Homo sapiens: one gene and its partner. The protein of the gene in region 2 purifies or fractionates together with the protein of the main gene of each other region. This does not show direct contact. Each region holds a gene or a part of one and is shown on either strand. Other genes may lie near its edges. The genes, in order: PPP2R3B and FAM13A.

The links.
Region 1: the proteins of FAM13A (region 2) and PPP2R3B purify together in Homo sapiens (affinity purification with mass spectrometry; one large-scale study listed by BioGRID and IntAct). This does not show direct contact.

What each region holds. Positions count from the first base shown.
Region 1 is NC_000023.11:338,254-342,064, reverse strand, and holds part of PPP2R3B (serine/threonine-protein phosphatase 2A regulatory subunit B'' subunit beta), read left to right. Parts: intron 1-133; coding exon 134-182; intron 183-668; coding exon 669-758; intron 759-1,124; coding exon 1,125-1,300; intron 1,301-3,168; coding exon 3,169-3,287; intron 3,288-3,354; coding exon 3,355-3,461; intron 3,462-3,811. UniProt on the Homo sapiens protein: The B regulatory subunit might modulate substrate selectivity and catalytic activity, and might also direct the localization of the catalytic enzyme to a particular subcellular compartment.
Region 2 is NC_000004.12:89,054,146-89,058,692, reverse strand, and holds the start of FAM13A (protein FAM13A), read left to right. Parts: upstream 1-1,507; 5' UTR 1,508-1,728; coding exon 1,729-1,755; intron 1,756-4,547.

The DNA of each region.
Region 1 (3,811 bases), on a different chromosome or scaffold from region 2:
CCCCGGGGCTCTCCCAGACCCAGGCGTCCTCTCAGCTTTTCGGTCCCCACCGCATCCAGTCTCGGCTCCGGGGGGTGGTGACGTCGGGGCCGAGGCACGGTGCGGGCTGCCCATCAACCGCATTCCTTTCCAGCCCTTTCTACCAAGATGATAGACAGGATCTTCTCAGGAGCAGTCACACGGTACGTACGGCTCAGGCGCCTGACGGCAGCCATTGCCCCTGCGAGGACCCCGGTCCCTCTCCTCATCGTTGCCTGACGTGAGCTTTTTGTGCCCCGACAGCGAGTGGTTGTCACCCCAGGCCCTGGCGAGGGGGGCACGTGTCTCTGTCACGTGAATCCCTAGTGGGGGGGGGTGGCACAAGACTGTCACGCGAAGTCTGAGGAAGGGGGTGGCCCAGGCCCCAGGTCGGGGGTTCTTGTCGGGCGCTGGGCCTGAGTGAGCAGTAACGAAGGTGCACTCCTGACCCTGCCTGGATCTGGGGAAAACCCTCTGGCCACGGGGCCTCCACCTCCTCCCCGGAGAGGCAGGAGGAGGGGCAGGAGGGGGGCAGGAGGAGGGCCGGGCCCGGGGGGCTCCCCTCACCGAGGCGCGTGGACAGGGGCTCCGTTCCTGTGAAGCTCTCCCTGACATGCATCTTCGTCTCTCCATCCTGGCTTTCGATCTAGAGGCAGAAAAGTGCAGAAGGAAGGGAAGATCAGCTATGCCGACTTTGTCTGGTTTTTGATCTCTGAGGAAGACAAAAAAACACCGACCAGGTGGGTTCCTGCTGCGGCATGCGTTTGTCCCAGTGGAGGGGCCGGGAGCCGCCCATGTGACATGTGTCCCCAGGCGGATGCCTGCACGCCTGGTGGGGGCTGCACGGCACAGGGGGACATGTGCACGCCCGGTGGGGGCTGCACGGCACAGGGGGACATGTGCACGCCTGGTGGGGGCTGCACGGCACAGGGGGACGCGTGCGCGCCCGGTGGGGGCGGCAGGGGGCAGGGGATGCCTGCACGCCCGGTGGGGGCTGCAAGGCACAGCGGGGACGCGTGCACCCCCGGTGGGGGCTGCCTCAGGGGCTGCAGGTCACGGGCTGGGAGGGCCCAGGGCAGGGGCTGACAGAGCTCGCCGTGCCGCAGCATCGAGTACTGGTTCCGCTGCATGGACCTGGACGGGGACGGCGCCCTGTCCATGTTCGAGCTCGAGTACTTCTACGAGGAGCAGTGCCGAAGGCTGGACAGCATGGCCATCGAGGCCCTGCCCTTCCAGGACTGCCTCTGCCAGATGCTGGACCTGGTCAAGCCGAGGACTGAAGGTGATGCCCCGTGAGGGCATGGCCCAGGGTGAGGGGACGGACGGGCGAGAGGACGGCCCAGGGTGAGGGGACGGACGGGCGAGAGGACGGCCCAGGGAGAGGGGACGGATGACAGCCCAGGGAGAGGGGACGGACGGGAGGGAGGACGGCCCAGGGAGAGGGGACGGACGGGAGGGAGGACGGCCCAGGGTGAGGGGACGGACGGGAGGGGGGACGGCCCAGGGTGAGGGGACGGACGGGAGGGGGGACGGCCCAGGGTGAGGGGACGGACGGGAGGGGGGACGGCCCAGGGTGAGGGGACAGACGGGAGGGGGGACGGACCAGGGTGAGGGGACGTCCCTGTGAGGCGCTGTCCTACTGAGTTTGTGAGGAGGGCCAGCACCACAGGTGCCTAGTCTCACAGTGCAAGAACCTCCTATTCGGGGCGTCGACACCCCCCGAGGGGTGACCTAGAGAACCTAGGGCCGGAGCTCACCGGGGACGTTGGCACTGGGCTGAGGGAGCAGTTGCCACGTTCGTGCTGATGCCGCACAAGGCGGTCCTCCCCTCACCCCCCCCCCCCCCGTCTCCTCCCCTCTCACCCCGCCCCCCCCGTCTCCTCCCTTCTCACCCCCCCCGGCTCCTCCCCCCCTCTCGCCCCCCCCATCTCCTCCCCTCTCACCCCCCCCATCTCCTCCCCTCTCACCCCCCCATCTCCTCCCCTCTCACCCCCCCCATCTCCTCCCCTCTCACCCCCCCCATCTCCTCCCCTCTCACCCCCCCCATCTCCTCCCCTCTCACCCCCCCGGCTCCTCCCCTCTCACCCCCCCGGCTCCTCCCCTCTCACCCCCCCGGCTCCTCCCCTCTCACCCCCCCCAGCTCCTCCCCTCTCACCCCCCCCCGGCTCCTCCCCTCTCACCCCCCCCCGGCTCCTCCCCTCTCACCCCCCCCCGGCTCCTCCCCTCTCACCCCCTCCGGCTCCTCCCTTCTCACCCCCCCCGGCTCCTCCCCTCTCACCCCCCCCGGCTCCTCCCCTCTCACCCCCCCCGGCTCCTCCCCTCTCACCCCCCCCCCGGCTCCTCCCCTCTCACCCCCCCCCGGCTCCTCCCCTCTCACCCCCCCCCGGCTCCTCCCCTCTCACCCCCCCGGCTCCTCCCCTCTCACCCCCCCGGCTCCTCCCCTCTCATCCCCCCCCGGCTCCTCCCCTCTCACCCCCCCCGGCTCCTCCCCTCTCACCCCCCCCCGGCTCCTCCCCTCTCACCCCCCCCGGCTCCTCCCCTCTCACCCCCCCGGCTCCTCCCCTCTCACCCCCCCCCGGCTCCTCCCCTCACCCCTGTTCCCCCCACACCATCTCCCCAGCTCCTCCCACCCACCCCCGTGCCCTCTAAGGCAAAGGGGAGCCCCACCGTCCACGCCGCCTGGCTTCCTTCTGCATCTCAGAATCCAGCTCTGGGACTTTCACTTTGGAAATGGCTCTGAGGCCCGGGCACCGCCCTGCAGCCCTGCCCCCCCCGGCCATGGGGCGCCTCCTGCTGCTCAGTGTCCCCGGGACACCCTCTGGCCTCTGCCTGCACGGGGAGCTCCGTTCTCTGTAATTTCAGATCCAGCAGCGCCCCTGCTGGCCGCGCCTCCCTGCGCTAGTCCCAGTCCACGCATCCTTGGGGCACCGGTGGCCCCTAGTCGCCTCCGCATCACGGCCTCCCACGCCTCAGTCCCCACCCAGAACCAGGACACTCGCGTGTCCGCCTTTCACGTCAAACACGTGGCGTGAGAGCCCGGAGCTTCGTGCCGCGTCCTTAAGCACGTGTGACAGGACGCGCGCACCCCACACCCAGGCCCCGAAGGTGAGACCGGGCTCACGCGCCTTGGACGCACTCCCCTCCCCGCAGGGAAGATCACGCTGCAGGACCTGAAGCGCTGCAAGCTGGCTAACGTCTTCTTCGACACCTTCTTCAACATCGAGAAGTACCTCGACCACGAGCAGAAAGAGCAGATCTCCCTGCTCAGGGTGAGTGCGGCGGGCACGCGGGCCGGGCCGCGCCACGCCGTGTACGTAACCCGTGTGCTTCCTCCAGGACGGTGACAGCGGCGGCCCCGAGCTCTCGGACTGGGAGAAGTACGCGGCCGAGGAGTACGACATCCTGGTGGCCGAGGAGACTGCGGGAGAGCCCTGGGAGGACGGGTGAGTGGGGAGGACGGGTGAGTGGGGGGACGGGTCAGTGGGAGGACGGGTGAGTGGGGAGGACGGGTGAGTGGGAGGACGGGTGTGTGTGCAGCCGGGGGATGCGGGGTCAGTCAGGTGGGGTGCGCGGACACAGAGGGGCGGGGTGAGACCTGACACGGGGCCGGTGAGGTAAGGACAGCCGATGACAGGGCCGGGCCTCGGTGCAGTCTGCCCGTCATTCCCCGCGTGGGGTTCTGTGATCCTGGGCGCGAGGCTTCGCACATCAGGCCCAGCACGGGGAGGCCGAGTCGTGTTTCGCCAACGACGTCTGTCCTTATCCCACGGCTGGCACCTGCTGGGCAGGCTGC
Region 2 (4,547 bases):
AAACTATGCATCTGACAAAGGTCTCATATCCAGAATCCATAAGGAACTTAAACAAATTTACAGGAAAAAGACAAACTACCCCATCAAAAAGTGGGCAAAGGATATGAACAGACACTTCTCAAAAGAAGACATTTATGTAGCCAACAAACCTATGAAGAAAAGCTCACCATCACTGATCATCAGAGAAATGCAAATCAAAACCACAATGAGATACTATCTCGAGCCAGTTAGAATGGCAATTATTGAGAAGTCAGGAAACAACAGATGCTAGAGAGGATGTGGAGAAATAGGAACGCTTTTACACTGTCCGTGGGAATGTAATTAGTTCAACCATTGTGGAAGACAGTATGGAGATTCCTCAAGGATCTAGAACCAGAAATACCATTTGACCCAGCAGTCCCATTACTGGGTATATACCCAAAGGAGTATAAATCATTCTGCTATAAAGACACATACACACATATGTTTATCGCAGCACTGTTTACAATAGCAAAGACATGGAACCCACTCAAATGCCCATCAATGATAGACTGGATAAAGAAAATGTGGTACATATACACCATGGAATACTATGCAGCCATAATAAGGAACAAGATCATGTCTTTTGCATGGACATGTATGAAGCTAGAAGCCGTCATCCTCAGCAAACTACCACAGGAACAGAAAACCAGACACCACATGTTCTCACTCATAAGTGGGAGTTGAACATTGAGAACACATGGACACAAAGGGGAAACAACACACATCAGGGCCTGTTGGGAGGTTGGGGGTGAGGGGAGAGAACTTAGAGGATGGGTCAATAGGTACAGCAAAAGAAAAAAGAAAAACAAATTGACAGAAAAAATGGTAACAAAAATAAAAATAGGATAGTTTCCTTTTGGCTTACCTGAAGTGGCTATTTTAGCTATTAGTTCAAATATTTGTAAATTTTAAAATCTATCAAATTTTCTAGTGACAGCATGTGGAAGAGAAAGTTATTGAAAAGTCAGTTAGCTAATTTTTCAGACTGCAAATCACATATGTAGAATTATGGTTGTCTAGAAGTATGTTGTTTATGTTTATCATCAGTATATTTTTATAAGACAACTCATACATAATTAGAAGTAGTAACGGCTACATAAAATAGAGCATTTTCATTTAAAACAATTCTGATGGGGTAGCATGGAAGGAAGAAAATTTTGGTAGAATTTAGCTGGTTTCTAAGGAAGAGTAGAAGAGAAAACTGCCTCAGAAAAAATGAATAATGTGCCTGCAGTTTTAAACCTGAGTCTGAATACGTACATTTTGCTTAGAGCTGTGTGGAATCTGGGAAGCAAGTCTGTGTTTTCACTTTATGCACTGTTGGTTCTATTAATGAAAGCCACCAGGTGACTGGCAGTTTTCGGAGTCAAAGAAGCCTGTGTGTAGGATCTAGGGAGTCAGGTTTGAAAAAAAGATGTCAGCGACTTAAGACCCGTGTCACGTGACTCCCTCTACTTGCCAGCACTGAGGCTGTGGATCAAATTTCAACTCCAGGCAGTCCTTCCAGCCATGTGGGTTCAGCGGAAAGAGAAGCAAAACCACTCTTCCTAAAATGTTAGAAGCTGCTCTTCGCTTACCTTGGGGCCTTTGCATTGGGAGCTGTTTTTCACATCAAAGAATATGTGCTGAATGGAATTTTAGTATTTTGCTGTCGTTTTAATATTTTCGTCTGGTCTTCCTCAGTTCTTCCAGACGCTTTCTGAGAGAATGGGGGCAGGAGCTCTAGCCATCTGTGTAAGTATAGGCCTTCTTCTGTCTTCTGTGTTTACTGCCAGTTTTTAGGAGAGGGCCTTGCCTTCCTTGTTTTGATGAGATGTTTGTGTAACTTATTTTTCCTTCCCAGGAGGTGGGGAAAGATTTGTTACTTAAATTCCTATCTACTTAAATGGGTATTAGGCAGGATTTGGGATGGCATTCAGCATATTTGTGCACTTTAGTTTCCAAAAAAGGTGAAAGATGCATGCTGATTTATTCCGTTAAGTCAACTTGATTTAAAGTAGAGCACTTTCAAGCATTTTAGACTTTCTTGTCCCTGAATAGTTAAACATGAATGCTTCATTATAGCTATTAGAGAAATCTTGTGGCTAGCTTGAGGAGGAATTGAAGTAACCATTAATTTATTACTTTTGAGTATGTGTGTGACATTTTTCTGTTTTATATTTCTATTTTCGTTTAGTAATTCTGGAGTTTCTGTTTCAGCATGATTGCTGAAAGTGATGGTGGAGAAGCTCAGTTGATAAATGTTTGTGTATCCTTAAACTGTAGAAATGAATGGTTGTTATAACACAGTAGCATTAATAAATAACACTGAAATAAAATCCTTGGGAAAATGTGCATATTTCTGGAGTTTTAGAATTTTTAGAATTTATGAATTTCTAAATTATTCTGCTGGTGCTTGTACAAAACCTTTTGTAATAATCAAAAATTGTCAATTATATAATTTGCAGAATGCTGTAATTTAAATTTTGATTGTACTATATAGAAAATGCATATATCTGTATGAGAATTACACATATTTATGTTTCAAGTTGCTATTGTATTCCATAGGGACATTTTATTTTCTAGAATGTATTAAATGAGAAATATCTTCTTCCTTATTATCACCTTAACTGCTCACTTAAAAAATCACACTCAGGCCAGATCCTCTTTTTTTGTGTGTGTTTCAGAAAGAGCTGCAATTTGCTGTAGCTTCTGATGGCATTCTGAAGTGTTTAGAAATATCTGAGCAATTTTTGACACACAGACACCAAATGGTCACCAAATGGTCACCAAATGGTAGACCAGCCCTATAGATTAAGTTTTCTTAGTGAAACTGCAGGATGACCTTGTTTCCAGGCTCAAAACTTTTCAGCACCATGTATGTCACTCTGTCTTCCTTTTAACTCTGAGGCTTAGTAGCATCCAGGTATCCATGTGGTTATTCTTTTTTTATCACCCCAAAGAGTTTCCTTCAAAATCTGATTTATCTATGTGTAAAATACTGACTTTTACTTTACTGCAGAGGTGGCCCTTCTATTTTTCTAGCTTTATAAAAGAAACAATACAGAACTGAAAATGTGTAGAATGAGGCAGCAGATAGGTCATGAAGATTGGTAGTCATCTCTGATTGTCTGATTAGATCTTTACTTCTTTCCCTTGACCTGCAATATATTGATCTCTACCTTGACTGGAATGCACACTGACTCATGTATAAAACTTTATATTTTCCCTTAATTTATATCCAAAGCATGTATAAAATTTCAGTTAAAGTTGACATAAAAATCACACAGTGTAAGAGATTATTCACTCTGGTAGATGAGTAATTCTCAATCATTTCTACCCTTCTCCTTAAGGTTGGCCTTTGATTGTGCTGTCTTGGTTTTACTGTAGGAGGAAATACATTTTCAACAGTTGTACCATAGCATATCTGGAAAAAGATAGCTTTTGGAGAACAACAAAAAAAATTTTAAACATCGTGACAAAAAAGGGAGAACTAAGTCACACATTAATACATTCAATGAGCTGATACACTACTTTTTACTTTGTGTAGGAGTGAAGAGAAAGCTTTTCCTCTGCCCTTTCTGCAATTTTATTGAAACAATTGGCAATAGATTAATAGGAGAAAAAGAGTTACAAATTTATTAATATGTATATGGATATGAGAGCCCCTCAAATATGAGATTCAAAGAAGGGCCAGGTGGTTGAAGCTTAAATGCCTTCTTTTTGGGGAAGAGAGAAGTAGGGAGCTGCAGGTAATTTTAGAGAGGTAGTAAATAATTTTTAAAGTGAATGAATGGGTTCAAAGAGCATGGCCTGGGACAGCGTTTCCCTGAGCTATGGTGAGGTGGTGGAAAGGTGAGGGGTGGAATGAAGGTTGTGTTTTTATGCAGATAAAGTCTCCCAGCCAATCTCTTGGAGCTGTCCTCAGAAGAATAGATGAAAAGTCAGTGTGGATATGGTGACAGCTTTTAGTCTCTTTTCTGATGGTTAATTTTTCATGGTTATTTGATGAGATTCTCAGGAAGTAGATCTTAAGACAATTGCATTTCTTTTGGAAAGAAGCTTCCTTAATCAGATAAGGAAATTCCAGAGAGAGTCACTCTCAGTGCTTTAGGAAAGAAAAAGAGAGACTGAGGGAGGGCAGGAGAGTGGAAAGGCAGAGAGAGACCTTGGTTCTGAGGCTTATTTCTGAGACATTTTAATTAAAAATACCCAGCATGCCAAAGCACCATATTTTGGGGTATAGCTTTTTGAACCCCAACATTTAGGACTTACATACTTATACATATATGTAGCAACTACTGAAATATCCTGCTGCTGAAGACATTAATACTTCAGACAGTATAATGAGTACTAGATATCTGTAGTACGTACGTGTGTGTGTGTGTGTGTGTCTGTGTGTATCTTTGTGTGTCTGTATGTGTGTGTGGACTCTTGAAGTGGGACACAAATTGGTTCCAATAAACTCAGTTTCTATGTCCATTGACTAACCTACTTTATCTTCCTCATTTCTTTTCTTTTTTAAACTCTTTGCCATGTTGTTAGTG